3 separate regions of the Homo sapiens genome follow, and all the other regions are linked to region 1. Evidence: fine-mapped expression QTL. A gene starts in region 1. Each other region holds a variant in brackets. All regions are shown on one strand. Distances are from middle to middle. Region 1 holds the start of NEK4 (NIMA related kinase 4). Region 2 overlaps SFMBT1 (Scm like with four mbt domains 1). Region 3 holds the start of STAB1 (stabilin 1).

Evidence for each region. PIP is the estimated chance that this variant, and not a neighbour inherited with it, causes the effect.
Region 2: its variant is the best candidate, but not a certain one, in a credible set for the expression of NEK4 in whole blood (TOPMed, PIP 0.79).
Region 3: its variant is the best candidate, but not a certain one, in a credible set for the expression of NEK4 in sun-exposed skin (GTEx, PIP 0.80).

What each region holds. Positions count from the first base shown.
Region 1 is chr3:52,766,760-52,776,847 of GRCh38, forward strand. NEK4 (NIMA related kinase 4) reads right to left here and starts at 4,181. Exons shown (of 16, transcript NM_003157.6): 1 at 3,895-4,181; 2 at 1,579-1,845. The coding sequence starts at 3,987. RefSeq lists enhancers at 3,958-4,475, 4,263-4,312 and a silencer at 3,993-4,102.
Region 2 is chr3:52,978,019-52,988,106 of GRCh38, forward strand. The region is part of intron 1 of SFMBT1 (Scm like with four mbt domains 1); the gene reads right to left. Among named protein-coding and RNA genes, the nearest start is that of SFMBT1, 63 kb to the right of the region's middle. The variant T/C (reference allele first, on the strand shown) is at 4,235.
Region 3 is chr3:52,493,256-52,503,343 of GRCh38, forward strand. STAB1 (stabilin 1) reads left to right here and starts at 2,083. Exons shown (of 69, transcript NM_015136.3): 1 at 2,083-2,236; 2 at 7,911-8,047; 3 at 8,383-8,498; 4 at 8,751-8,836; 5 at 8,904-8,973; 6 at 9,377-9,472; 7 at 9,744-9,854. The coding sequence starts at 2,159. The variant G/A (reference allele first, on the strand shown) is at 5,037.

The sequences.
Region 1 (10,088 bases):
GTGGATCATGAGGTCAGGAGATCGAGACCATCCTGGCTAACAAGGTGAAACCCCGTCTCTACTAAAAATACAAAAAATTAGCCGGGCGCAGTGGCGGGCGCCTGTAGTCCCAGCTACTCGGGACGCTGAGGCAGGAGAATGGCGTGAACCCGGGAAGCGGAGCTTGCAGTGAGCCAAGATTGCGCCACTGCAGTCCGTAGTCCGGCCTGGGCGACAGAGCGAGACTCCGTCTCAAAAAAAAAAAAAATATGTTTACAGGCCAGGCGCAGTGTTCAGCAGTTTGGGAGGCCGAGGTGAGCGGATCACTTGAGGCCAGGAGTTCAAGACCAGCCTGGGCAACATGGCAAAACCCCATCTCTACTAAAAAAATACAAAAATTAGCTGGGCATGGTGACGCACGCCTATAATCCCAGCTACTTGGGAGGCTGAGGCACAAGAATCACTTGAACCCAGGAGGTGGAGGTTGGAATGAGCCACGATTGTGCCACTGCACTCGAATCTGGGCGACAGTGACACTCTGTCTTAAAAAAAAAACAATGCTTACAAACTCCACTGATGGTAGGACAACTTATACAAAGTCAGACGCACAGTCCTCTCAGACCCATGAAATCCTCAGCTTAATAATATTTTCAAGTACAGCAAGAGCATTTTTATTTAGAGAAAGTATCTCAGCCGGGCGTGGTGGCTCACGCCTATAATCCCAGCACTTTGGGAGGCCGAGGCAGGTGGATCACCTGAGGTCAAGAGTTCGAGACCAGCCTGGCCAACATGGTAAAACCCCATCTCTACTAAAAATACAAAAAAAAAAATTAGCCAGGTATGGTGGCAGGCGCCTGTAATCCCAGCTACTTGGGAGGCTGAGGCAGGAGAATCGCTTGAACCTGGGAGGTGGAGGTTGCAGTGAGCCGAGATCGTGCCATTGCACTCCAGCCTAGATAACAAAAACAAAACTCCGTCTCAAAAGAAAAAAAAAAAAAGAGAGAAAGTATCTCAGAATTTAAACATGGTCAATTAATTCTGGACAAGTCTACCCAGTTCCAAAATAGTATTTCATAAACGTCTCGCTTTTGAGTTATATGCATATTAAAACACAAACTTGTAGGAACACTTATTCCATCTTAAGGAATGATGTGCTGCCCAATTCTAAAAAATAAAAAAAAGAAAACTTGTTTTGCATTCCCATCTACTGTACCCCAGCAGACTGACAGATGAAATCACTGGGCATATCAATTAGCCTAGCCACCTTTCAGCATGACACGACTGACCAATGGATAACAAACATAGTCACTCTATGCTCTTGGTTGCCTCAGGGTCCTTAAAATTGACTTTGCTATAAATGGTAATTGAGTGGGCTTCCCCTGCAATCAGACATGAAATCTATGTCTATTTTAATATAGGTATCACTTACTTAGAAAAGTTCCAATGCTACAGAAAGAGTGACTGGGTCAACTTCACAAATGAATTTTCCAAAAAATACATTTCTATATGTAAGTATCTGAAGAAAAATTTTCCTAAAATACACCTGCCATCTTCTTGCCATCTGGGAACAAGCTAGGATGCTATTAGTCTACACAGTACCTGCAAAGCCATGGCGATCTGTACAAACCACTCTACCACCTGATTCTCAGGCAGAAGCTGCCCTTTCTGCTCCTTGAGCTTTCGGTACAAATCACCTCCTTCACAGAAGCCCATGACAATGTAGAGCAGACCATCTCCTCCTTCCCATGACTCCTTGTAGGTGACAATGTTGGGATGCTTCAACTGAGACAAGAGCTGGGCTTCCTGTTCAGCAGCTCGCCGCTCTCGGCTAGAGGCATTTCGGAGGTTCAGTTTTTTGATGACATACTAAAAACAAACCATGTATTTTTACAATGTGCAAATAAACGTAAGATTTGTGGCCTCAGAGTTATCTAAGGGCTCTCAAGAATACCCTCAAAACCAACCTTGTGGAGCCTGTCAGATAACCTATTCATTTTGTTTTTCACCAAGCACAAAATCGGGGAAAATATTTGCTATTATTGATACTTCTTATAAGTTAGATTTATAGCAGTGTAGGGCCACAAAAATTACCTTTCCCATCTGCATTTCACAATTTCATTAATGACTAAAAAAAGTGAGTTCAAGATAACATACCATTGGATCAATTATAAAACCTGTGTTAGCAATTCCTTAATATCTGGCCATACACAGTGGCTCACACCTGTAATCCCAGCACTTTGGGAGGGTGAGGCGGGTGGATCACCTGAGGTCAGGAGTTCAAGACCAGCCTGGTCAACATGGTGAAACCTGTCTCTACTAAAAATACAAAAATTAGCCCGGCGTGGTGGTGTGTACCCATAGTCCCAGCAACTCGGGAGGCTGACACAGGAGAATTGCTTGAACCTGGGAGGCAGTAGTTGCAGCAGTGAGCCAACATCGCACCACTGCACTCCAGCCTGGGAGGCAGAGCAAGACTCTGTCTCAAAAAAAATAAAAAATAAAAAAAGAAATTCCTTAATATCTAAGCTCTCCCAAAAAGGTGAATAAAATATAGCTTGACTATACATTTGCAGACAGAATAGTCTGTGGATTACGTTAGATACTCAAAGGGATCCATGGCCCCATAAGTTTAATAGTCACTGATCTTCAGCATACAAAATTATTCACACTTAAAAGAAATCAATAGCCTCTAATACCTAATACATTGCCCTCAATCATTTCAAAGACCATACAATTCATTTCTTCAACACATAGATAAATGTGTTTTGTGAAGTGTAAACTAAAGCTCAAATAACTAGCTATTGCTAGTTCCCTATCATCAGCCCCAAAATCCAATGATTCCCCCAATGCCTACTGAATAAATTTCTTATGCATGAGCTTGTGTTCCACGCAAAGCAACTAGCACCAGAGACAAGGAAGAACAGGCAATTGGGCCCTATATTTAGGGGGAACATCTCTTCTCAGCTTGCCTGGAGCAGTCCTACTGTCCTGGTGTAACTATTAATAATGCCTTTCAGTTTCAAAATTGTCCCAGTTTGTACATTATATTGTCACCCTATTAATAAACCACATTGAATAATTGGTTCATTATCCTGAGAGTAATGGGATAAAGTGTTTTAAACAGAGGAGTGACAACATCAGATTTAAATTTGAGAAAGATCACTGAGGCTGCAGTGAAAGTGATGGATTGGAGAAAAGCAAGTCAAGTGGCGGCGACCAGTTGGGAAACCGTGGCCATAGCTTTGCTAGAGACAACAGGGTGTCCTGGATTGGGGTGGTAGCAGTAGAGATGAGAGGAGGCCTATTGTCTTAGTGATAGATGAATATAATCAGTGTTGGGGTGCGTGGGGAGGCTTAAAAATGACTCCAGGTGTCCGGCTTGGGCAACTGGTGGGTTGGTGTCACTATTCACTGAAACGGAAGACATGAGAGAAGGTTTGGCGGGAAGAAAATGAGTCGAGTTTTAAGTGAATCCAGCAGTCTACAGTAGAGACGTTTGGGGCCCTTCATTCAAGGAATAATGCTTGCTAGGCGCTGTATTAAGTCCTGGGAATGCATGATACCGGCTCTCATGAGAGTATCGGGGTTGGGAGAAAGGTGTGTAGATCACGCATGCCAATTAGTACAACAAAGAAGTAGATAGGCAGAGACTGAAAATTTTTACATAAAACTTAGAATTGTAATTAAAGAAAATGAAAATTAAAAGGAAAAAAATTTAACACAACAAAGAAGTAGAAGTAGTTCTGGGCGCATATTACAGGGAGGCCAGGCCTCGTCTTGGTCTGGGACCATTTCCCTGAGGAAACGCCATCCGAGATGAGCCTCTTGCGACCACCCCCGACCTAATCTACCGGTCGGCGCCCTCGGCGCACTTCTGCCCGCCCCCGCCCCTTGCCGGGCCCCACCCCTGCAGACCTGCTTGCCGTCCCGCCGGTGCTTCACAAGCGTCACCTCTCCATAGCTCCCCTTGCCCACGACCCGCAGGTAGCAGTAGGCGGCCAGGGGCATGTTCCCAGCGCTGGCCCAGAGTCGGGATGCGGCGGCAGCGGCGGGTAGGGCAGCGGGCGGCAACAAGAAGCTCGGTTCATGCCCGAGAGGGGGCAGTGGGGGCGGCTGTTGAGGCAGCCGGGCCCGGGCGGGATTGCTGGGGCCCGGCCCGCGACGACGCCGCTGCCATAGCGATCCGGGCCGGGAGCAGTTCTGCGCATGCTCCTGCGTCCCCAAAGGACGGCCATAGAGCGGACGCCACGAGCGGCCAGAGAGGTTCCGCAGCCCCGGGAGGACCCGCCATAGAGCAGAGGCTCCAGGAGGCCAGAGCGACTCCGCCAGGCTCCGCGCACTTTCTGTGCGTCCGTTCCACCGTCCGGATCCCCGCCACAACAGAGTCAGGGAAAGCTTCCTCTTTTTGTGCACTTGTTTGTCCTAAGGCCGTTACAAGTATTGTTCGTTCATTCTGCAAATATTTGTTGACCGCCTATGTGCCAGGCCAACAAAGTCCCTGCCCTCCTGGAGCTCATGTTCTAATGACTGGGTGACAGACTCTCTACCAGTAACATTTGCTGTATCCGCTTTATCACATGCCGTCTCTGCATCCAGCAATCCATCCTATTTTTTGATACATTCAAAGTAAATTATCAGTACCTTTCATCCCTAAAAACTCGCCTGCTAATTGAGAACTACAAAGACTCCTCAGCATTTAACGACTACCCTAACCACTGCACTAAGAGACTTGACTAAACTCTAACATGGCATCATGCTAAGTTAACAGCCTAAGGGCGGATCTCTAGGTGGGCCTAGGCCCCTTTAAAATGCCTGCCCAAGAAAGCTCAGGGGTGCCAAAAGAATTCACCATTTGTTCCAGCCAAAGCCTCCCTTTCCCAGAGCGCTTCCTTTTTTTCCTTTTTTTTTTTTTTTTTTTTTTTTGAGACAGGGTCTCGCCCTGCCACCCAGCTTGGAGTGCAGTGGTGCAATGGTGCTCACTGCTGCCTAGACTTCCTGGGCTCAAGCCATCCTCCCAACTACAGGCACACACGTCCATGCCTGGCTAATCCTATTTTATTTTTTTTCAGAGACAGGGTGTCACTATGTTCCCCAGACCGGTCTTGAACTCCTCGGCTCAAGCAATTCACCCACGTTGGCCTCCCAAAATGCCGTTATTACAGGTGTGCGCCATCGTGCCTGGCCTCTTTCCTTTTTATGGCCAAATAATATTCCATTATATGTATACACCACAATTTGTTTATCCATTCATGCAGTCATGGACACGGATAGCTTCCATCTTTTGGCTATTGTGAATAATTCGGCTATGAACATGGGTGTACGAATATCTGTTTGAGTCCCTGCTTTCTTTTTAATTCATTTGGGTATACACTCAGAAGTGAAATTGCTGGATCATATGCTAATTCTAGTTTAATGTATTGAGAAACCACCACACCATTTTTTACAGCAAGCTGAACCATTTTACATTCCCATTAGCAATCCACAGGGGTTCAAATTTCTCCTCATCCTTGATATATATCTTGATAGGAGATTTGGGTGTATGAATTTGTCAAAATTATCTAATGGTACATTTAGTATTTGCACATTTTACTCAAAGCAATTTCATCTTCACTAGAAAACCAAACAAAAAGAACCATAAATAAAGATTGAACTCTAGTTAATGATATTATTAAAGATAAACAAAGCCAGGCATTAAAATGATGAAAATAGATTTTATTCAGTAACTACTGACAGTAGGGGAAGCAGCTGAACTCCATTCCATTTGCGCAGGGGTGATTGGGCATTCCAAAGGAAGAATAAGGGAGTAGGCAGGGGAGCATGCAGGGGCTCACTTAGAGTCTGGGAAGTGAAAAATTAAAAGGAGTGCTTAGCGTAAATGTGATTAGGCCAACTGTGTCTGCTAGCTGGCAATTAGGGAAGTTAGGATTCTATTCTCCCACATAGACTGGGAGACATGAGCCCTACCTTTATGATGATTACATTCCAAAGGAATGGATTTCAGGTCCTTGAGAAAGACATTCCTAGGTTGTAGGAAATACATAGGTATATATCTCAGAGGGACAGAGGAAGGATTTGTAATTGTAGCTTTTTAAAGTTAGTGCTCTAGAGGCCACACACTATGACTCACACCTAATCCCAGCACTTTGAGAGGCCAAGGTGGGAGGATCACTTGAGACCAGCCTACGAAACACAGTGAGACCCCCTTCTCTACAAAAAATTTTTAAAATTAGCTGGGTGTGGTGGCGCATGCCTGTAGTCCCAGCTACCTGGGAGGCTGAGGTGGGAGAATCAGTTGAGCCTCGGAGGTTGAGGCTGCAGTGAGCCATGATCCTGCCACTGCACTCCAGCTGAGTGACAGAGTGAGACTCTGTCTCAAAATAAATAAATTTTTAAAAAGGAAGGATGTTCTGACATGCTACAACATGGACGACCCCTGAGGACATTATGCTAAACAAAATAAGGCAGTCACAGAGGACAAAAGTATGATTTCGCTTATGTGAGGTACCTGTAGTAGTCAAAGTCATAGATTCAGAAAGTAGAATGGTGGTTGCCAGTTGTTGGAGAGAGGAGGGAATTGGTGGTTGGTGTTTAATGGGTGCAGAGTTTTAGCTGGGGAAAATGAAAAAGTCCTGGAGATGGATGGTGGTGATGGATGCAAAACATGAATGTACTTATGCCACCGAACTGTATTCTTAAAAATGGTTAAATAATAAATTTTATGTTTTGTATATTTTACCACAATAAAAAATTATGGCACACTGCTCCTGTAATCCCAGCTACTCAGGAGGCCGAGGCATGAGAATCACGTGAACCCGGGAGGCGGAGATTGCATTGGGCCAAGATCATGTCACTGCACTCCAGCCTGGGCGACAGAGCAATACTCCTTCTAAAAAAAAAAAAAAAAAAAAAAACCTATCATTCATTCTACAGACATTTAGCAAGGGTCTACTAGCCTGGACCTGGAGGACAACTATGAACAAGACAGACAAGGGCCTGCCCATGTGGGGCTTACTGTCGAAGAGGGAGACGGCCATGCATACTAACAAGCTACCCTTGCCAACTGAGGTCAGTACTGTTCAGAAAAGCCGCCAGGCCCAGCCTGGCCATCCAGGAGAGGTTGCCCCAAGCAAGCACCGCATGAGTGGAAGTTTAAACAAAAACTTTTTCAGGCAGAGGAGCAACATGTGCTAAGATCCAGTGGATTCATTTTGTGACTTTACCTCCACACCGCAATGTGAACTCCCTGAGGACGAGGCCAGGCCTGTCTGCTTCAACACCCTAAACCCAGCAGGTATAAATGAAGGAATTGCCGCTTGCTGAATGAATGAATGGAGAAGCACCTGCCTACCTGGATCTAAAAGAAGTCTCTGCAGTTGAAGCTGAGAGACTCAGAGGGGCCATGGGCTAGGTGACATAGAGGGGTCAGCAGGGGCCATACCACTCAGGATAGGGTGTGCGAGACAGGGAAAGGCCTGCGGCAGACTGACCTTTCTAAATGGTGACTCTGGCTGCTGCCTGGAGCAGAGCAGAAGGAGGAGATGAGCCGTCTAAATGAGGGATGAGGGCAGCTTGAACTAGGTGGTGACGGGGGATGGGGAGAGAAGTTAATGGATTAGAGGGATATTCAGAGGGTGGGAGGTGGGGTAGGTGGTCAAGGAGACTGAGGCACCCAGGATGCCACCCAGCCTTCTGGCTTGGATGGCCAACTAGATGGCGGTGGCCTTGACTGGAGTGGACAACAGGGGGAAGATCTGGCTTAGTAACGGGGTGTGGGGAGGAGGAGACAAAGGTCAGGAGTTCAGTTTGGACATACCAGATGGAGGGGCTGTGGGCACATCAAGCAGACAGTTGGCTGTGTGTGGGTGGCGCTCAGAGCAGGTCTGGGCCCATGTGCTGTCCCACCGGCACCAGCAGCACAGCTACACTCCCCATTCTCAATCCTCAGCAACCATAGCTGCTTTCTGTCCACCCTGGCCCCCACCTCCCACATGCATATGGTGGGCCAACGTCTCTTTCTCTGTACCATGAGGATAATAGTAACAATAATATCTGTCTCTTGTGGGGAGTTGTGAGCAGTAAATGAATTCGGACGTGATGCTAAGAAGCATGACAGGCACAGGTCATAGTTAGCTCTCCCCATCTCCTGTCCACCCTCCCCCTGTGCAAACATGCTTCTAGCACTTTACATGGACCAGGCTTGGTGCTAGCCATCTCTCAACAGCCCAGTCTTGAACTCATCACACCCTTGCTTAAAATATCTTAAGTATCTCCCACCCAAAAGGCTAATCACTTTCAGACCCCTGCGCCAGCTGGTCCCAACCCCCTTCCCAGCCACCTTCCCTACCCTCTTCATCAGCTCCTGCTCCCATCCCAGACACCTCTACCTTCCCACAGCATACATCCCACCTGCCCGTCTGCTTTTCTCTCCCTCCCTTCCCGCCTTCCCCTTCCCAAGCACTGCTCTTTTTTCCAGGCACCTCATCCAGGAACCTTCTCCTAATCCCTGCAGGAGATGAGCCTCTGCCCCTCCAAATTTCTATCTCTTCAGCTTCTCATCACTCCTTGGGATTCAGTGGGCTCCCTTTGACTTGTCTGATTCCCTTTTCCCCTGACATCAGCTCACTGAACACAGCAGGGCACTCAGGTTTCTGTATGGTGGCCTCTCAGTGCCTGGCATTGTGCCCAACACACTGCAGGGCTTGGTCGATACTGGTGCAGGAAATAAGCAGAACTTCAAATGTACACTGTCATGTCGATCCAGCTTCTCTTCTACAAAGGCCAGAAGACAGGCCAGAAGGTGACCGTGGCCTAAGGACAATAAACTCTTCCCAGAAGCTGCTCTGTGAGACAAAGTCCAGGACAAGCAAACAGAGATCAGTGAGGGCTCTGGGCCCCCTCCTCTTATCAGGGTCACAGCAGCCAGCACATCCCAACCCAGGTCACAGACTAGACTGGCCAGGGGCCCTGTCTGCCCAGTATGCTGTGGTTTTTGGGGAACAGGGTGGGTTTGGCAATAAAAAAATAAGAAACTGCAGGTGCAAGATGGGTCTCTGGGAACTCCTGTCTCTAGGATCTTCAAGTCTGCTTCTCTGTCATTACATGATGGCCTTGGGCTTTAGAGCCTGAGAGACCTGGTTTGAATCCCTGTTCTGTCTCTTGGTATGGGGCCAGTGTCCCAGGAACGTTGCGAGGATAAAATTAGACAATAAAGGGTTTAGAGGAATGCATGACACAAATGAGTCCTCGATTATGAAAACATGTCATTCATCTTCAGCTCCCCTTTATCTGCCAGGCCTCCCTGCCCAGGTGCAGGAACGAGGAAGCTCACTTCTGTTCTTTCTAGAACTGGGTAAGAACCTCAGAGAGGTGAAGCAACTGGCCTAAAGCGCAGATCTCCCATCATGCCTCACCCCGACCGTCCAGACTGTCTCTGACAGAGCTAATACCAGGTTAGCACTGTGAGAATCACCAGCATGGCTGGATGTCACACACTTTCTAAGCCACCGTGTCTGCCTCCCTGGCCAAAGCATGACTGAAAAGTGTGTTGATGCTGAAAGAATTTTGAAACAGTCTGGGCAACAAAGTGAGACCCTGTTTCCCTCCCTTTCTTTTCTTTTTTCTTTTCTTTTCTTTTCTTTTTTCTTTTCTGTTCTTTCTTTCTCTGTCTCTCTTTCTTTTCTTTTCTTTCTTTCTTTTTGGAGACAGTCTCGCTCCGTCACCCAGGCTGGAGTGCAGTGGCACAATCTTGCCTCTCTGCAACCACCACTTTCCAGGCTCAAGCTATTCTCCTGCCTCAGCCTCCTGAGTAGCTGGAACCACAGACGCATGCCACCATACCTGGCTAATTTTTGTATTTTTGGTAGAGATGGGGTTTCACCATGTTGCCCAGGCTGGGCTGGAACTTCTGGCCTCAAGTGATCTGCCTCCCTCAGCCTCCCAAAGTGCTGAGATTACAGGCATGAGCCACCTCGCCCGACTGAAACCCTGTTTCAACAAAAAATAAAAATAATCAGCTGGGTGTGGTGCCACATTCCTGTGGTTCCAGGTACTCAGAAGGCTGAGGTGGGAAGATCAGTTGAGTCTGGGAGGTCGAGGCTGCAGTGAGCCAA
Region 2 (10,088 bases), 210 kb after region 1:
AGAGATATATCAGTGAAGAAAACAGACCAAAATCTCTGCCCTCATGAAGCTTATATTTTAGTGTAAGGAAGAAAGTATAATACTTTTTCTAAATGTCATAAGTGATAGAGCTGGGGAGGAATGACAGTGTGGGGTGGTTAAATCGGGTAGAGAGAAAGGAGGTTTCACTGAGAAGGTAACATATGGACAAAGACTTGAGGGAGCTACAGAAGGAAAGAGCATGCCAGGCAGAGGGAAAAGCCAGCAGAAAGGGCCTAAAGGGAGAGCATGTGAGAGTGAGCTATGTTCTAGGAATAGCAGGGAGGCCAGGGTAGTTGGTGCCAAGTAAGCAAGCAAGAACAAGTAGAAGGAGAAGAGGCAGGAGAGAGGTCAACTTCACACTGCCTGCCACTCCCATGTACCTCTGTGAGTACCCCCCACCTACAGCCCTTAAGGAACTATACTTACCAGGTGACCCTACTCCTCTGGGGGTAACAAAACGTAAAGGCAATGTTGGTGGGAATGTAAAATGATGCAACCACCTGGGAAAACAGTCTGGCAGTTCCTCAGTGTTAAACATAGAGTTACCATATGGGCCAGTATTTCACTCCTCAATATATACCCAAGACATTTGAAAACATATGTCCAAACATAAACTTGTTCATGAATGTTCGTAGTATTATTTATAATAGTCAAAAAATAGAAACAAATCAAATGTATCAACCAATTAATGGTTAAGTAAAATGTAATATATCTAATATAATGGAATATTATTCAGCCATAAAAAGAAATGAAGTACGAATACATACTACAACAAGGATAACCTTGAAAATATTGTACATGAGAAGATAGACACTAAAGGCCACATATTATACGCTTCCATTTATATAAAATGACCACAGAGGCAAATTCACAGAGACAAGTGGGTAGATTGTGGTTGCCAAGGGCTGGTAGAGAAAAGGTAATGGATAACGACTACTAATATGTACAGGGTTGCTTTTGGGGGTATTAAAACATTCTAATATTAGACTGTGGTGAGAGTTGTACTATTCTGTGAATAAAAAAACTGTAAACTTTAAATAAGTGAGTTTTATGGTCTGTGAAATATATCTCAGTAAAACTATAAAAATGGTACTTATATTCAAGGACATAACTGTGCTTTTAAATAACATTTCAAATACAGAAGCCAATGACAAAAAAAAAAGAGACAAGATATCTGGGTTACCCTTAGGATATGCAACAGAAGGAGAAAGAAAATAATTTGGCTGTTACTGGTTTGTATCAGTTAAGGTAATGTTATGCTTTAACAGATAAATTTCTATTTTCAATTGCTTAATCCAACAGATATGTATTTCCCACTCAGATGAAGTCCAAACAGGTGTTCCTAATCAGTAGGCAACTCTCCACCATGTGATTATTCATGAAGCCAAAAGCCTTCCGCCACATAGCTCTACCACCTTCAACAAAGTCTTCACAAATCATTCACTGTAGGGGATCACACATGGGAGGTTTTCATGGGACAGACCTAAAAGTGGTACGTCCCTTCCACCCACATTCCACTAATTAAAATCCGGTCACAAGACCCCATCCAACTACAAAGGAAGCTGCAAACTACAGTATGGCACTTCCCACCATTAGTAACAGAGTGCTTAAATTAGTATTGCCATTCACCAGAACTTATATTAACAGTGAATAGCAGTTATTCTACTTAAAGGAGGCTTCATGAATCAATAGTAGTGATACTATGAACAGTCATGGAATTCTGTCAATAAATATTTACTGAGCACTTATTATCGCCACACCACATTTGTTCTAGGTGAAGAAATATTTTGAAACCTGCCCTCACGAATCTCATAATCTAAAGTGTGTAGATAGCCAGCAATAAAATAAATACAACTGAGCCTTGAACAACATGGGCATTAACTACATGGGTCCACTTACAGATTTTTAAAAATAACTATCTTGGAAAAATTTTTGGAGATTTATGACAATTTGAAAAAACTTGCAGACAAACCATGTAGCTTAAAAATATCAAAAAATTAAGAAAAAGGTGTGTTGTGAATGCATAAAATACATGTACCTATTAGTCTATCATTTACCACTTTTATATACAAATCTATTATTAAAAGTTAAAAAATATCAAAACTTATACAAACACAGACTGTACATGGTGTCATTCCCAGTCCTGAGAAATGTAAACAAACCTAAAGATGCAGTTTTACATCATAACTACACAAAATTAAGTGTAGTACATATTGCATCATTTGCAATATGAAATCATTTTGCAGCTATCTCCTGTTGCTATTGCCTTGAGCTCAAGTGTTGCGACTATCTCCGTAAAATGCTGTATGACACTAATCATCTCCACGTGGGCAATTCGTCTCTCCAGTAAAATGCATAAATAATATCACAATAAAAAGTGATCTCCCATGGTTCTTACACATTTTTCATGATGCTTAGTGCAGTACTGTATTTAATAACACCGTAAGACCCATAGAAAGTACCGCTAGAGATGCTGGACGTGCTTTCAAGAAGCAGAAAGAAGTGGTGACATTATAAGAAAAAGCTGGATTGCTTGATATGTACAATAGATTGAGGTCTACAGCTGCAGCTGCCTCCATTTCAAGATAAGTAAATCCAGCACAAGGACCATTGTTTAAAAAAAAAAAAAAAAAAGCAAAGGAAATTTGTGAAGCCATCACTGCAGCTACGCCAACAGGTGCAAAAACCTCGCATTTTGTGTGAATTATGTTTTTATCTCATGTTGAAAATGCAGCTTTTATGTGGGTGCACGACTGCTGTAGAAAGGCATACCTATAAACTTTCATATGATTTGAGAAAAAGCAAAGTCATTATATGACAAAGCAAAAGAAAGGTGAAGGAGTCCGGTCGCGGTAGCTCACGCCTGTAATCCCAGCACTTTGGGAGGCCGAGGCGGGTGGATCACCTGAGGTGGGGAGTTCGAGACCAGCTTGACCAACATGGAGAAACCCCATCTCTACTAAAAATACAAAATTAGCCGGGCGTGGTGGCACATGCCTGTAATCCCAGCTACTCGTGAGGCTGAGGCAAGAGAATCACTTGAACCTGGGAGGCAGAGATTGCAGTGAGCCAAGATCATGCCACTGCACTCTAGCATGGGCAACAAGAGCGAAATTCCATCTCAGAAAAAAAAAAAAAAAAGGTGAAGGATCTAAAGCTGGAGGATTTAATGCCAGCAAAGGATGGTTTGATAATTTTAGAAAGTGGTTTGGCTTTAAAACTTTAGGAGGAGAAGCAGCTTCTGCTGACCAATAGGCAGCAAATGAGTTCCCCAATGCCAGTTAAGAAAATCATTAAGGAGAAAGGATTTCCACCTGAATAGGTTTCTGTGGAATTTTTTTGAGACAGGGTCTTGTTCTGTCACCCAGGCTGGAGTGCAATGGCATGAGCTCGGATCACTGCAACCTCCACTTCCTAGGCTCAAGCAATCCTCTCACCTCAACCTCCCTAGTAGCTAAGACTACAGGCATATGCCACCATGCTCAGCTAATTTTTTTTTTTTTTTTTTTTTTACTTTTCTGCAGAGACGAGGTCTCACTACATTGAGCAGACTAGTCTGAAACTCCTGGGCTCAAGCAATCCTCCCACCTTGGCCTCCCAAAATGCTGGGATTTCAAGAATGAGCCACTGCACCCAACCTGAACAGGTTTTTAATGCTGATGAAAGTGCTCTATTTTGGGGGAAAATGTGCTACAAAGGACATTAATTAGTAAGGAGAAGAAAGTACCCGGATTTAAGGGAGGAAAGGATAGGCTAACTTGACTATTTTGAGCAAGTGCAGTTAGGTTTATAATCAGGACAGCCCGCTAACCCCCACGCCTCGAAGGGAAAAGATAAAAGCCAGCTGCTAGTTTTTTGGTTGTACATTAAGGCCTGGACAAAAAGAACCCTTTTTCTGAACTGGTTCCATCAATGATTTGTCCCTGAAGTCAGGAAGTACCTTGCCAGTAAGGGTCTGCTTTTTCAAGTTCTTTTGATATTTGACAATGCCCCCAAGCCACCCATGAGTTCAACTCACCCCATGAGTTCAACACCAAAACTGGTGAAGGGCGTCTACTTGCTCCCAAACACAATGTCTCTAATTCAGTCCCTAGATCAGGAGCTCATAAGGGCCTTTAAGGCTCATTACACACATTCCTTTATGGAAAGGACTGTCAACACTATGCAAGAGAACCCTGATAGAACATCATGAAAGTCTGGAAGGATTACACTA[T/C]TGAAGATTCCATTGTTATAGAAAAAGTCCTGAAAGCCATCAAGCCTGAAACAATAGACTCCTGCTAGAGAAAATTGTCCAGATGTCCTGCATAACTTCACAGGATTGACAACAGAGCCAATCACAAAAATCATGAAAGAGGTTGTAGATACGGCCAAAAAGGTCGGAGGTGAAGGGTTAAGATATAGATCATGGGCCGGACGCGGTGGCTCACGCCTGTAATGCCAGCACTTTGGGAGGCTGAGGCGGGCGGATCACTTGAGGTCAGGAGTTCCAGACAGGCCTGGCCAACAAGGTGAAACGTCGTCTCTATTAAAAATACAAAAATTAGCCGGACATGGTGGCATATGCCTGTAATCCCAGCTACTCAGGAGGCTAAGGCAGGAGAATCGCTTGAACCCAGGAGGCGGAGGTTGAAGTAAGCTGAGATCGCGGCACTGCACTCCAGCCTGGGCGACAGAGCAAGACTCCCATCTCAAAAAAAAAAAAAAAAAAAAAAAAGATATAGATCGTGGAGAAATTCAAGAGCTAATAGATAGCACACCAGAGGAATTAACAGAAGACGACTTGATGGAGATGAATAATTCCAAAACCAGTGCCAATAAAGAAGAAGATGTAGAAGAAGCAGTGCCAGAAAATAAATCAACATTGACAATCTGGCAGAAGGGTTTGGATTACTCAGGACTGCTTTTATGACAAGATCCCTCTATGATATGGCACTGAAACTAAAGCAAACAGTGGAAGAGGAGTTGATACCATATAGAAACAGTTTTAGAGGAAGGAAAAAGCAAACATTCAGACAGAAACTATAATGTTATTTCTGAAAAGTTACACCACGTGTACCTGCCCCTCTTGCCTTCCTTTCTGCCTCCTCCCCTCTTCCACCTGTGGCACCCTAAGACAGCAACACCAACCTCTCCTCTTACTCCTCCTCAGCCTACCCAACGTGAAGATGACAAGGATGAAGACCTTTATGATGATCCACTTCCACTCAGTGAAGAGTCAATATTAATATATTTTCTCTTCCTTATGATTTTCTTTGTAACATTTTTTCTCCAGCTTACTCTATTGTAAGAAAACAGTATGTAATATATAACATATAAAATACGTGTTGATTGACTGCTTATGTTATTGTGGTAAGGCTTCTGGTCAACAGTAGGCTATTAGTAAAGTTTTTGAGAAGTCAAAAGTTATATGCAAATCTTCAACTGCGTGTGGGGTCAACACCCCTGTGTTGTTCAAGGGTCAACTATAATATGTATGTTGAATGAAAACAAATGTTAGGAGAAAAAAACTGAACAAGGGAGGAGGACAGGGAGTCCTACTTTTAACAGAGTGATCAAAGCCTTAGTGTTGAGGTAACACAAAACAACACCAGAGGGAAATGAGGAAGTGAGCCATGTGGGTACGTGCGGAAGAATATTCAAGGCAGAAAAACAAAAAGAGCAAAGTCTCTGAAGTGGGAGCTTGTGTGGCGTATTTGAGGCCACAGTGGTTGGAACAAAATGATCACAGCAGAGATGCTAGGAGATGAACTCAGGAAGCTATCAGGGAGTCATATTTTATATGAACTTGCAGGCTGCTGTGAAGATTTTGGCTTTGGGGAAGCCATTGAAGGATTCTGAGCAGAGGAGGAACATAATTTGATTTATCTTTTAAAAGGATCACTCTGCAGCTATGTGAGAAGAAAGCAAGAGCAGAAGCAGGAAGACCAACTAAAAAGACCACAGAATAATCCAAGTGAAAGGTGTTGGTGGCTAGGTCTAGGACAGGAGAAGTGAAAATGTGGAGGAAGATGTAAGATGGATTTGGTGTATGAGAGAAAGAGCAGTATCTGGGCTGACTGAAGTTTCTGGCTTAAGCAACTGGAAGGATAGAACTGCCACTTATGGAAAAAGGGAAGTCTGAAGTAGGAATGGTTTGAGGAAGAAAAATTATGATGAGCTTCAGTGCAAAATAGGGCAATATGATTACTTCCCTCACCACTAAAGGTTTGTTCTTGGAGTTTTCAGGAAAATGTTTTCAATCAACAAAAGTATAATTACTATCTGTGTAGTGTCTCCAATTTATAAGCTTTTTTTCACCCACGATGCTTCATTTGAACATCATAAAAAACTTTTTTAGACAGCAAGAATGGGGCCAATTCTTTTTTTTTTTGCCCCTTGGGAACCTCCTTGTTGGCTTCAATCCCATCTTACATTTCACGTTCTCTAGGTTTACCAATCAGCCTTGAAGGCATTTCCCCATAGCAATTCAGTAATTTATGCTGCCTTGTTTTTTAACATTCCAATTTCAACACCCACATACTTTCCAATACAGGCACTTCAATGACAAATTTTCTAGCTTTCTTTAATGTATGTCTTTCAATAATCTCAGGCATAAATAATCTTTAAAAATTCATACTATAATGAATACTATATTGAATATAGGTAATATATATTATTATAATATATACTGAATACTATACTAAATACTGTGTGTGTGTGTGTGTGTGTGTGTGTGTGTGTGTGTGTGTGTCTATTCATACTATAATGATTCATACTATAATGAGTTTGGAAATATCAGGCTGACCACCCTATAAATCCCTGGTCCACAGTTGGCTAAGTATGACCACTTCGCAGCCCGGCTTCCTTAGCAATTACTGATTAGTACCAGGATATTGAGCACCTCCTCTTTGCCAGATACCAAGACGACTAAATTGCAGTTTTGAAATTATCTTTCACTGTACCAGAATATGTCAAAAGCATTTAAAATCATTCTTTATCCTTATATTATCTTATAGGCTGGAACGGTAGCTCTTCCAGAGTTCAAATATGATTACATTTTCATCAATTAAATGCTTTATTTATGGGAGCCAGTAACATGAGCACATGTTGAAACAGTATGTCTTTGTTCTGATTAAATCAGGAGCTATTTGATTCACCAACACAAGCACTGTCAAAACATACCAATTCCAATAGTATTATAAAAAGATTATAGGAAAAGACCATGTTCAGTTATGAAAAGACTTGAAATTATTCTGTAATTTCATGGTTGCTGTTTCTCAGCTTTCTCATGTCAAGTCACAGATCAGAAACTTCATCTCAACAGAACAAATGCTTGTTAACCATTTATCAAGAAAAAAGAAAAGATTATTTGAGTACCTACTATGTATGTGCCTGGCACTTTTTATGTATTGTATACTAAATAATTAGGCACACAGAACACTGTCCAACACATGGTAAGCTTAATATTTAAGTGTTTATTATTTTTTAATAATCTTTTATTTAATCCTATTCTGCTTAACTCATACAATGATAATTCCATTTTACAGATGAGGAAAAGTTAACATGTCAGTTCATACACAGTCATGCATCGCTTAATAATGAGGATATGTTCTGAGAAATTTGTTGTTTGGCAATTTTGTCATTATTCGAACATCATAGGGTATACTTACGCAAACCTAGATGGTGCGGCCTACTATACACCTAGGCTATACGGTGTAGCCTATTGCCCCTAGGCTACAAACCTGTAGGCAACTGTAACACAATGGTAAGTATTTGTGTATCTAAACATATTTAAACATAGGAAAGGTGTAGTCAAAATATATCATAAAAGATAAAAAATGAGGCCAGGCGAGGTGGCTCACGCCTGTAATCCCAGCACTTTGGGAGGCCAAGGTGGGCAGATCATTTGAGGTGAAGAGTTTGAGACCAGCCTGGCCAACATGGTGAAACCCCGTCTCTACTAAAAATACAAAAATTAGCTCGGTGTGGTAGTGGGCGCCTGTAGTCCCAGCTACTCAGGAGGCTGAGGCAGGAGAATTGCTTGAACCTGGGAGGTGGAGGTTGCAGTGAGCTGAGATCATGCCACTACACTTCAGCCTGGGAGACAGAGTGAGACTCCGTCTCAGGAAAAAAAAAAAAAAAAAGATAAAAAATGGAACACTTATATAGGGCACTTATCATGAATGGAGCTTGCAGGACTGGGAAGTTGTTCTGGGTGAGTCAGTCAGTGGTGAGTGAATGTGAAGGCCTGGGATATTACTGTATACTACTGTAGACTTTCTAAACACTGCACATGTAAGCCACATTAAATTTGTTTTAAGAATACTTTTCTTCCTTCCATAATAAATTAACCTTAGCTTACTGTAACTTTATAAACTTTTTGATTTTTAAAATTTTTTTGACTTTCTTGTAATAACACATAGCTTAAAATACAAACACTGTATAGCTGTACAAAAATATTTTTTTGGTCGGGCGCCATGGCTCACGTCTGTAATCCAATACTTTGGGAAGCCGAGGTGGGCAGGTGACCTGAGATCAGGAGTTTGAGACCAGCCTGGCCAACATGGCAAAATCCCATCTCTACTAAAAATACAAAAAAAAAACTTAGTCGGGCAGGCATGGTGGCAGGTGCCTGTAGTCCCAGCTACTCGGGAGGTTGAGGCAGGGAAATCGCTTTAACCTGGGAGGTGGAGGTTGCAGTGAACCGAGATCGCGCCACTGCACTTTAGCCTGGTGACAGAGCAAGACTCTGTCTCAAAAAAAAAAAAAAAATTAGCAGGGTGTGGTGGCGAGTGCCTGTAATACCAGCTACTCAGGAGGCTGAGGCAGGAGAATCGCTTGAACCCGGGAGGTGGAGGTTGCAGTGAGCCGAGATCGTGCCACTGCTCTCCAGTCTGGGCGAAAGAGTGAGACTCCATCTCAAAATATATATATTTTTTCTTTATATCCTTATTCTATAACTTTTTTCTATTAACTTTTTATTTACTTGTTAAAACTTTTTGTTAAAAACTAACACAACAGCCTAGGACTACACACGACCAGGATCATCAATATCGTTGTCTTCCACCTCCACATCCTGTCCCACTGGAAGATCTTCGGGAGCAATAACATGCATGGAGCTGCCATCTCCTTGATAACAGTGCCTCCTTCTGGAATACCTCCTGAAGGACCTGTCTGAGGCTGGCTTACAGTTAATTTTTTTTTAATAAATAAAAGGCATATACTCTAAAATAATGATTTAAAAGTACAGTAAATAAACCACAGTTATATATTATGATCAAGTATTATGTACTGTACATAACTGTATGTGTTATGCTTTTATACAACTGCCAGTGCAGGTTTATTTACACCAGTACCACAACAAACACGAGTAGGTATCTCACTATGACTTTAGGATGGCTACTACATCATCATTAGGCCATAGGAATTTTTCATCTCCATTATAACTGTATGGGACCACCGTCATATATACAGGCCACCATTGACTGAAACACCATCATGCCATGCATGACTGTAGATAGGAAGCAGCAGGGGCAGCATTTGAACCCTCATCTGATCCCAAGCCTGAGCTCCTTAGTGTTTCTGGGCTCTGGGGCTTTTCTTGGAGCTCAGAGAATACAAGGATAATTGTGAGGTATGTCTTATACCATAGAGTGATGGCCCTAGATGATCTGCGCTCAAGTTGTTTTATTCATTCATTCATTTAACTTCTAAGTTCCATACTGTTCTGCTTAGAATGGTGAGTAACCAAGAGTCTGGATGGCACCTAGACAGATGCTGCCATCTATAAGCTTCTAAAATCTTATTCTAGTAGGGCCCTAAAACAGATTAATTCATATGAAAGGATACAGTACACATTTTTAAATTAAAACACATTTCCTTATTAATTCTTTAATGGAATGGAATAACACTGAATTAAGAATGGAATAACACTGAATTTAGCCAAAAGGCTAAAAAAATCAGTGTAATAAACAGCCATCATCAAAAATGTCAGAATCATCAGGAAAGCATAAAAAACAAAGTCTTTCCCCAACGGAGTAACAGGCTCTGCCTCAACCCAGAAGAGAGCTGAGGGGAAGTTATAGTGG
Region 3 (10,088 bases), 270 kb before region 1:
CAGTGCCATGCTGGGCTGTGGCTAAACCATGAGCGCAGGGCAAACAAGAAACTCCTCAGGGCACCCCTGACACACCAGCCGCTGCCCCTCTGCCTGGGTGCGGGGCATGCCACCCTCTTCAGGCTGTCCTGCAGGTCTTATGTGTCAGTCACCCCTGGGCCCAACCCCACCTGTTTCACAACCCCTGTTGAGAGTGGGGGAGGGGCGAGGAGGACAGAGAGATCCCAGAGTCTGAGGTGGCTGGTGGGGGCCGGGGCATCTCACCAAGGTGGCCCTTGAATGGCAGCAGGGGAGGTCTGTGGGGAGGTGGACCCAGGTGGTGGACAGTGGAGGGAGGGGCACATACCCATCTGTGTCTGTCTTCATGTCCCTGAAACATGAGGCTCATGGGCCCCTCCCTGAGGGTTGCTTCAGGGAGCCTGCTGAGGTAGGACCTGGGATTTTGGTAGCCAACCCCATGCCACACTCTTCCCCAACCCCATTCCTGCTGCCAGAGCAGGGCCTATGAGCCCCACATAACTCATCCTGGCCCAGCCAGGAGCCTCAGTCCCCAGGACCTTGGGGCAGCCAGGCCAGGCAGGGCTGTGGAGAGGTGGGTGGCGTGGCCAGCCTGGGTCCCAGGCCTGCTTCTGTTCCCCCGTTTCCCTTGGTGCCAGCAGAGTGGGGGTCCTGCCTGGAGGACCCTTCACCCCCAGGAAGACTGTGGGTGTGGGGAATGTGGGGAGGGTTTCCCCTTGCAACCCCCATCCCAGCCAGATCTCAGGCCTGCCTGAAGGCCCCTCCAAACTGATGGGAGTGGAGGTGTGCTGGGGAGGAGAAACTTTCCCCAACCTGGCCTTTACCAAAGCATTTACAGATGGCCACCGGGCTCTGGCCCACTCCTGTCTCCCCAACTGTTACGCCGTCTGCAGTTGGGGGTAGTGACAACTGGAGGCAAGGCCCACCACGTGCAGCCCTGGCACGCAGAGGCCCTCAGCCTGGGCCCACTGCACCTCTTGGGGGTGCTGGCTGTGCAGGCAGTGGTGGCTTCAGACAGTAGCCCTGGGATTGGATATGAAAACTGATTACCTCAGACAAGCTACCCAGCCCCTCTGAGCCTCAGTTTCCCCACCAGTAACAGAGGGATCATAAAAGTAGCCACCTCCATTCATTTATTCCTTCTGCACACGTGTATTGAGCATCCACTGTGCGAATCAGCCAGACAGCGCCCCTACTCTTCCACAGCCAATGTTCCAGGGGAGACAAATGAAACAAGCCAATGTCAGCTGGTGGCTGGTGCTGCCAGGTGAACCAGGTGCAGGGCCACCTGCAGGCTGAGACCAGGGAGGCGCTCTGAAGTGGTGGCCCTTGACCTGAGACCACCTGTGAGAAGGAGCCAGAGTGTGACAATCTAGGGTAGCAGCACATGCCGGGAGAGCTCACTGAAGGAGCAGAGAGGCCTGCGCGGCTGGAGCAGACCTGTCTGGGGAGAGTTCAGAGAGACCAGCCAGCTGGAGAGGGGTTTGGAGGTGCTGCAGCAAGCTGGCTGAGCATGGGCTGCTGAGTGGAGGGCAGATAGGGAGGCAGGGAGGGTGGATGGGGGTTGGCGGGCAGGACCAGCGGCTCAGGAGTGGCTGGGGCTAGTGAGGGGATGTGGGTCTGGTGGGCTAGCAGGGTGCCTGTAGCGAGTCAGAGCCCCATGAGCGCCCTGGAGTTGGAAAGGTGGAGGCAGGAACAGACAGACCCATTCAGGGGCTGCCCTGCCTTCCGCCGACCAGCACCCCAGGAGCCTCTGAATGAAACACACTGGGCTCGCAGGCGGGGGACTCGTTCACGTGTGCCTTTGGATTTGCTTCAGAACCTCTGATAGAGCCCAGGTCCCGGGGCTCATGGTGGCCTGGACTTCCAGGTTGTGATGCCAGGAGGGTCCCAGCCGGGAAGCCCCGAGCAGGGCTCAGGCCGCCCATGGGGGGTCAGTGGCCAGCACCTTCCCTTCCGCCTGCAGGCTGCTGATATGCAGGAGGAAATCCTGGCGGGTTCCTGTGGGGGTGAGCTGGCGGGGCCTCCGGGCTGCTTTTAAGGCCACTGCCCGCCCCGTCCCGCCTGCCTGTGCTGTGCCTGCCTCCTAGAGCTCATTCCCTACGCCCCGACTCTGTCCTGGACAGCGTGCCCACCAGCCATGGCGGGGCCCCGGGGCCTCCTCCCACTCTGCCTCCTGGCCTTCTGCCTGGCAGGCTTCAGCTTCGTCAGGGGGCAGGTAAGTGTGAGCCAGTCGCAGGGGCACACGGCGTCTGGGCCCTGCCGGCCAGCGGTGGGAACAGGGAGGGACTGACATGGAGGGGCAGGGGCCTGGGGAGAAACCGCAGCTGGCGCCTGTCTGGCCTCTTAGCAGGCCTGGGGGCTGGCTATTGTGCCCACCTCCCCAGTCTGAGGTCTGCGTCCAGCCACCCAGGGTTCAGGGGTGTGTCAGCCCACCCTCCTCTGACTATGCGGGGCCGGGGCTCCCCAGCGTGCAGCTGAAGTGTACAGAGGCAGGCCTGTCCTGCCCTTCTGGCCCAGACGGAGGCCCAGGTCTTATGTGGCCCTCACCTGGGGGTTGAAGATGTGATCACCTCCAACCCCCGAGGACTACAGATTCACGTGGGGCAAGTGTGTGCACATGTGTGTGCCTGTGTCCAGCCCCAAGAGTACCGGGAAGCAGAATGAGTCACTCACCCTTAGTGTCCGGGGTTATGAGCAGCTGGCAAGGACACACTTCAGCCTCAGAGCTGCCACAGAGCAGCCACAGCCCCGGGCAGGTCCCCTTGAATCCTCACAGCCTCGGGGCAACTCCTCCTGTCCTCCTCGTGAGGAACCCGAAGCCCTAGGATGATGGGGACAGGCCATTCCCACTCTAAAGCCATGCTCCAAACCCCTGCCTGTGATGGCCATCCGTGTGTGCTGGCGAGCAGACAGGGTCCTGGTATGCAGCCACAGCCAGCCCCTCGGTCAGGTCCCTGTGACAGGCTCCTGGCTGCAGGTCTGCTCAGGCCCCATGGTAGGGGCCTCTGGGAGCTTCTGGAAGAGCCTCCCACCCTGGTGATGGGGGTAGTCTCTCTCCTGTGAGGCTGAGCGTGTCTGCCTCCTGGAGCAGCAACCACTATCCCCATGGCACAGATGGCCAGACTAAAGTCCAGAGCGGGGAGGACTTGCCCAGGATCCCACAGGCAGTCCAGCCAGGGGCCTAGGCCCCCTGCCACCATCAGGCGCTTTCTCTTGGATGCCTGTGGTCCCTCAGAGAGGCAGCAGGGAGAAGGGCCTCACCAGCTTCAGGACCAGGCCAGGGCTGGGGACAGGAAGATATGAGGCTGAGAAGGCGACAGTGATGGGGGAAGAGCCAAGGGTTCCAGGGCTGTGCTGAGAGCCCTGCAGGTAAGCTCCTGCCCTCCCCTTAACTCAGTTTCCCCCTGTGTACCATGCAAGGGAATTTCAAAGGCCTCCGCCACCTCCTCATGCTCTGGGCAGTGAGGACAGAGGTCAGTGAGGGGCCTCAGATTCGAGTTTTTTCCTTGTCAGAGACCTATGGCTCTGACCACTCCTTGTGGATGGGGCTGCAGCAGTGCTGGCCACTCTAACACAGCTACGTGGCCTCTATCCCAGCACCCTGCATAGCCGAGAGCCACTGTAAGTGCAGTTGGCCCTCTGTATCTGTGCACCCTGTACTTGGGTTCAACCAACCCTGGATTGAAAATATTCAGGAAATAAAATGGCATCTCTACTGAACATGTTCAGACTTTTTTTCTTTTGAGGTGGAGTCTCGCTCTGTAGCCCAGGCTGGAGGGCAGTGGCGTGATCTCGGCTCAGTGAAATCTCCACCTCCCAGGTTCAAGCGATTCTCCTGCCTCAGCCTCCCGAGAACTGGGATTACAGGCGCCCGCCACCACACCCAGCTAATTTTTGAATTTTTAGTTTCACCATGTTGACCAGGCTGGTCTGTAACTCCTGACCTCAGGTAATCCACCTGCCTCAGCCTCCCAAAGTGCTGGGATTACAGGTGTGAGCCACCGTGCCCAACCCCATGTTCAGACTTTTCTATGTACATAGCATTTACATTGTATTCGGTATTATAAGTCGTCTAAGGATGACTTAAGGTATACGGGAGGATGTGCATAGATTATATGTGAATTCGATGCCTTTTTTTTTTTTTTTTTTTTTTTGAGATGGTGTCTCTCTCTGTTGTCCGGGCTGCATTACAGTGGCGCTATCTCAGCTCACTGCAACCTCTGCCTCCCAGCTTCAAGGGATTCTCCTGACTCAGCCTCCCAAGTAGCTGGGACTACAGGCGCACACCACCACACTTGGCTAATTTTTGTGTTTTTATTAGAGACAGGGTTTCTCCATGTTAGCCAGCCTGGTCTCGAACTCCTGATGTCAGGTGATCTACCCTCTTCGGCCTCCCAAAGTGCTGGGATTACAGATGTGAGCCACCACTCCCAGCCTCGATTCCATTTTATACCAGGGACTTGAGCATCCACAGATTTTGGTATCTGAGGAGGGTCCTGGAACCAGTCCCCCATAGACACCAAGGAACAACTATATTAGGAGTGGAAGCTCTGAGGGGAAAGGATATCCCGGGTAACCTGTTCAGTAAGGGCAGCAACAGGACTGGAGTGAAGATGGGTTTGGGCAGCGAGGCAGGAAGGCTTTCCTGGAAGGCCCTTAGCACTTGCCCATTCAGCAGCTTTTCACCGAGGGCACGTGGCTAGGTGTGTGCAGTGGAGCCTGTGGCGGGAGAGGAGCACGGTCCAGAACCCAGCCCTGCACCCTCCCTGATCTGACCAAAGGTAGGGGGAAGCAGTTTGGGGTTCCTTCCTCTCTGACAGGGTTTAGATTCTGGGCTCTCAGCCTTAAAAAGTCCCCATGAACCAGGTCCCAGCTTGGGAGAATTTCATCCACCTTCTCACCAAAGACTTCACACTTCGTGTCTCCTCAACTTCCCCCAGCAGCAGCTCTGTGGGAAGCAGACATTGCAAAATCAGGTCTGCGGGGGGTGTGGGGTTGGGGGGGAGACAGCACCC[G/A]CTCTGGCTCAGTCCCGAGGTGCCCCCAGGAAGGAGGGAATCTGACTCAGCACTCAGGCCGTGATCCAGCCTCACTCCACCCAGCTGGACCAACGGCAAGATGTGGGCTCAGACCGCCGATGCTCCTTCCAGGCCATGGGGCGGAGGCAGGGCCCCTCGGCTGTGGTCTCGGAGAAGCACTGATGTGGCAGCAGGCTTACCATTCATCAGCATTTCACACACGTTTACAAACACCCAGGTCCTGTGAGTGAGTGTCCACACCAGGCCCCAAAGCTCCCGCTTCCTTCTGGGCCCTAACTCACCCATCGCTCCATCTAGCCCTGACTGTCTCAGAGTGCGACCAGCACAGTCTTACTCAGCCTGAGCCCTTATCCAGAGCTGACCACCATTCCTCCAAGAGCTGGTCCACAGCCAGAATGGTGACCGCGCTGGCAGCTTTGCCCAGCTGGCCAGGTGGCTTTGAGGGGAGCCCACCTCCTGCCAAGCCTCTACCCTGAGCCAGCAGCTGCTCAGCCCTCAAGTTACCCAATTTCCTAGTCTCTCCCTGGCTCAGCAAAGGCGAGCCTCAGGATGGGGAACGAGACCACAACATCCCAGCTCCGCCGTTCAACACAGGCTGCTCTGAGCAACTTCCCTGTTTGCAGACCGCAGAGGCATGAGCGGAAAAGGCCAAATCACGGTAGCACAGAGGCTCTGGGGCCCTGGTATTTGCCATAAGAAAGTGTCAGGGGCACCATTTCTCCTTTTCTCTTGCTTTGAGAAGCCACACATCTGTAAATTATTCCAGGAAAGGGATGTTCTGGGGTCACTCCCTTTGGACCACAGTGTGGTCAGCATTTTTCAAGATGAGAACATCTCCACTTCTCTGGGCCATGCCCAAAGCCTCCCAAACACCTCCCCTCCAACCTATGCCCCTTCCCTATGCCCCTTCCTCCCACTAGAACTGGGAGTTTAGCTTCACGCCTCCTGGTTCAGTGCTGAAGGTTGCTGGGACTTTGTTGCCGTAGAAGGCTGGTGGACTTCCAGGAGCTATGGCAGGCCAGTGAATGGGACTCCAGGCCTGGGGCTTTTGTCAGCATCCTTGTGCCCATGCCGTGGTGGCAGGCTGGACTCCTCACATCTTCCACGCCCCACCCAGTTGCTGAGACCTTCTCCCAATTCATCTCACCACCCCAAGCCCTCTCAAATATCTCCCAATCCATTTCCACTGTCCCTGCCTTGGCCCAGGCCACCTTCAGGTAATGATGGCCTCTTTCCCACCACACCTGCCCCTGCGACTGTATTCTCCATGCAGCAGCCAGAGGGCCAATTTAAAACAAACTGGCCGGCCGGGCGCGGTGGCTCACGCCTGTAATCCCAGCACTTTGGGAGGCCGAGGCGGGCGGATCACGAGGTCAGGAGATCGAGACCAACCCCGCTAAAACGGTGAAACCCCGTCTCTACTAAAAATACAAAAAATTAGCCGGGCGTAGTGGCGGGCGCCTGTAGTCCCAGCTACTTGGGAGGCTGAGGCAGGAGAATGGCGTGAACCCGGGAGGCGGAGCTTGCAGTGAGCCGAGATCCCGCCACTGCACTCCAGCCTGGGCGACAGAGCGAGACTCCATCTCAAAAAAAAAAAAAAAAAAAAAAAAACTGGCCAGGCACAGTGGCACATGCCTGTAGTCCCAGCTACTCGGGAGGCTGAGGCAGGAGGATCGCCTGAGCCCAGGAGTTCAAGATTACAGTGAGCTAGGGTCACACCACTGCACTCCAGCCAGGGCGACACAGCGAGACCCTTTCTCAAAGACAAAAAACCATAAACTGAGTCATGGGGCTGCCCTGGACTCTGCCTCACCCAGGTTTACGGAGCTCCTGCACCCCAGCTGCCAGCCCCTCTCCAGCCTCCCCTCGGGCCACTGCCTGCCTTGTCACACATTTGTTTTTACTTCTTTCCACTCCCGGCCTTTGCTTCTGCTGTCCCCTAGGCCAGGAGCACTGTCCTTGACCAATTCTCATGCATCCTTCAGGTCCCAAGTCAATGACCACCTCCCTCAGGAAACCACCTGGGGCCCCAGCCAGGATGCCCTGGGTTTCCTCAGAGGCTGGCATGGCCCGTTGTCTCCTGTGACTGCCCAGCCCAAACACTTGCAGACCAGAGTCCCTGCACACAGCTGCTCACGTGAGCCCAGCCTCTCAGGGCCAGGGCCCTTAGTCTCTGATTCCTGGGCAGCGGAGAAAGCCCTTGCGCTTGGTTAGAGAGGGTCATTTGGTAGCAACGTGGGAAAATGCTCAGAGCAGAGTGGTGGCTGGAGGTCCAGCCCCACGGTGCATGGCTGGAGCCGGCATCGTGCCTGTGCCCATGAGTTGAGGATGGAGTCGCCGTGTCCTCCCAAGACAGCATCAGCTCTGTCATTTATTGTTTCTTTATCTTTAAACAAAAGGCAAAAGTGAGCACTAGGCTGGGAATCTGGGTTTAGTCCCTGGTTCACACCCTGTTCATGGATGAGATTGGGTAGCGGCCATGTCCTGGGCTTCAGTTTTCTCACCTGAAATGGGCTTGGGGGAGCAACGTGGCTAGATTCTCTAGTGTCAGAGGGTGTGGACTCAGAGCCTTCTGGGCCGGGCACATAAGGACTCGATGTGACATTAACAACTTGTAACAGACAGGTTTCACAGGGCCTTCCCCATCTGCACTGCATTCCCACTGAGCGCCCCCAGGGCATTCTGTGGACCCCCAAAGAACTCAGCTCTGTGCCCAGAACCCTCTGCTTACTCTGACCCCTGAGCAGATGGGAAGTGGCAGCTGGAGGGGTGTGAGCCCTTGCAGCACTGAGGACAGGGTCAGGACTGGGCGTGGGGTCCAGGCCCCTGACCACACCCTGCCTGTGGCCCCAGGTGCTGTTCAAAGGCTGTGATGTGAAAACCACGTTTGTCACTCATGTACCCTGCACCTCGTGCGCGGCCATCAAGAAGCAGACGTGTCCCTCAGGCTGGCTGCGGGAGCTCCCGGATCAGATAACCCAGGACTGCCGGTGCGGGCCACCCCTGTCCTTGCCTGTGTCCAGGAGCATCCTGTGGGGTGGCAGGGACTCGGGGAGCCTGACAGGCCCACAAAATGAGGAGAAGCACTCACTTATCCATGCCCCTGTGGCCCCACCTGGGTGGTGGAGATAGGCGGGGAGGAAGGGGTAAAGGCGAGGGGCAGGAGGGGTTTATGGGGCACCTGCTATGTGCTAGGCCCTGTGCTCAGCTCTGGGCCAGGCAGAGCAGGGAGGTGGGTGGGAGCCCCGGAAGCCAATGTGGGGAGGCTGGGTGGGGGCTGTGCAAGGGAGCCTTTTCCATCACCCTGCCCACCCTCTGCCCCCAGCTACGAAGTACAGCTGGGGGGCTCTATGGTGTCCATGAGCGGCTGCAGACGGAAGTGCCGGAAGCAAGTGGTGCAGAAGGCCTGCTGCCCTGGCTACTGGGGTTCCCGGTGCCATGGTATGGGAGAAAGGGGGACCCCGCCTTGCGCCTCCCACCCAGCCCCAGCTCTGGGCAAGCCCTCTGCAGGAGCCACCTGCATTCCCCTTCAACTTGTTTGTTTAATTAATACTCACCGAGCGCCTCCAAGGCTCGGCCCCCTTGCTCTTGCTTCCTTGGGGGAGGGGCCGAGTCTGGGGTTGGCCAGAGCTGCTGGGGTCAGGGTAAGCGGAGGGTTCTGGGCACAGAGCTGAGTACTGTGGGGGTCCACAGAATGCCCTGGGGGCGCTGAGACCCCATGCAATGGCCACGGGACCTGCTTGGATGGCATGGACAGGAATGGGACCTGTGTGTGCCAGGTAAGGGCTGGGCAAGGTGGGGTGGAGGCTCAGAGGGGCCACGCTGACTTGGTGCATCCACCACCAGGAAAACTTCCGCGGCTCAGCCTGCCAGGAGTGCCAAGACCCCAACCGGTTCGGGCCTGACTGCCAATCGGGTGAGTGCTTAAAAGGCAAGAGGGCACGGCCAGCGTCCACCTGGGGGCCCACGCAGATGCAGTACCTACAACCAGCTCCCACCTGTCCCTTCAGCCTCTGTCCCAGCCCCTCAGATTTGCACATCCCTTTCAGGAACATGTGCTTTGTTTTATCACACCTCCAGCCCTTTGCACATGCTACTCCCCTGAGAGGCCTTCTCCAGGAAGCCCTCTGTGAGCCCCAGGCCGGGCCAGTGCCTTCTGTGGTCTCCCACCACCCCTGTGGTCCCGCATCACAGCTCTGTACTCTTAAGGTTGTACCTGCCCGAGCTGAGTTCTAAAAATACAGAGAGCAGGGACCCGATGTCCCAGTGTGTGCCTGGGAGAGGCTGGGGCCCCATCTGTCTCTGTGTGTCCCTCCCAGTGTGCAGCTGTGTGCACGGAGTGTGCAACCATGGGCCACGTGGGGATGGAAGCTGCCTGTGCTTTGCTGGATACACTGGCCCCCACTGTGATCAAGGTGAGCAGCGCCACTGGGATAGCCTAGGGCAGCAGGTCCCTGTGGCCAGAGCAAAAGAGGCCGACTGGGTGAGGATGGGGCCTGAGCCTCAGCAGGACCTCCGCCTGGAGCCTAGTTGGGGAAGGGGTGTCATCTGAGACCTCCACTGTCCAGAGGCCCAGCAAGGTCAGGGCCCTGCTCCAAGTCACACAGAACAGGCAAGGCCCCTTTGCCCCTGTGTTCCTCCCCAGCCTGGGCTTGGGCTCATCAGTGCTCTCTCCACTCTGCGCAGAGCTGCCCGTCTGCCAGGAGCTGCGCTGTCCCCAGAACACCCAGTGCTCCGCAGAGGCTCCCAGCTGCAGGTGCCTGCCCGGCTACACACAGCAGGGCAGTGAATGCCGAGGTGAGCCTGGACTCAGAGGCCAGGGACTTCAGCTCAGGGCGGGCGGGGGCTGGGAGAGCATCCTTTAACCCAGCAAGTGCAATGTAATTCACAAGGAGGGAGAGCCATTCCTAAGGGGAGCCTATCCTCAAGGCCTAGGTCAACCTGCTGGCCCCGGCCTTCCTGGTGAAAGCTGTGGCGGAGACAGGGCTCCTGGGTGCTTGGCTCACTTGGGCTCTCTCTCTGCCCTGGCAG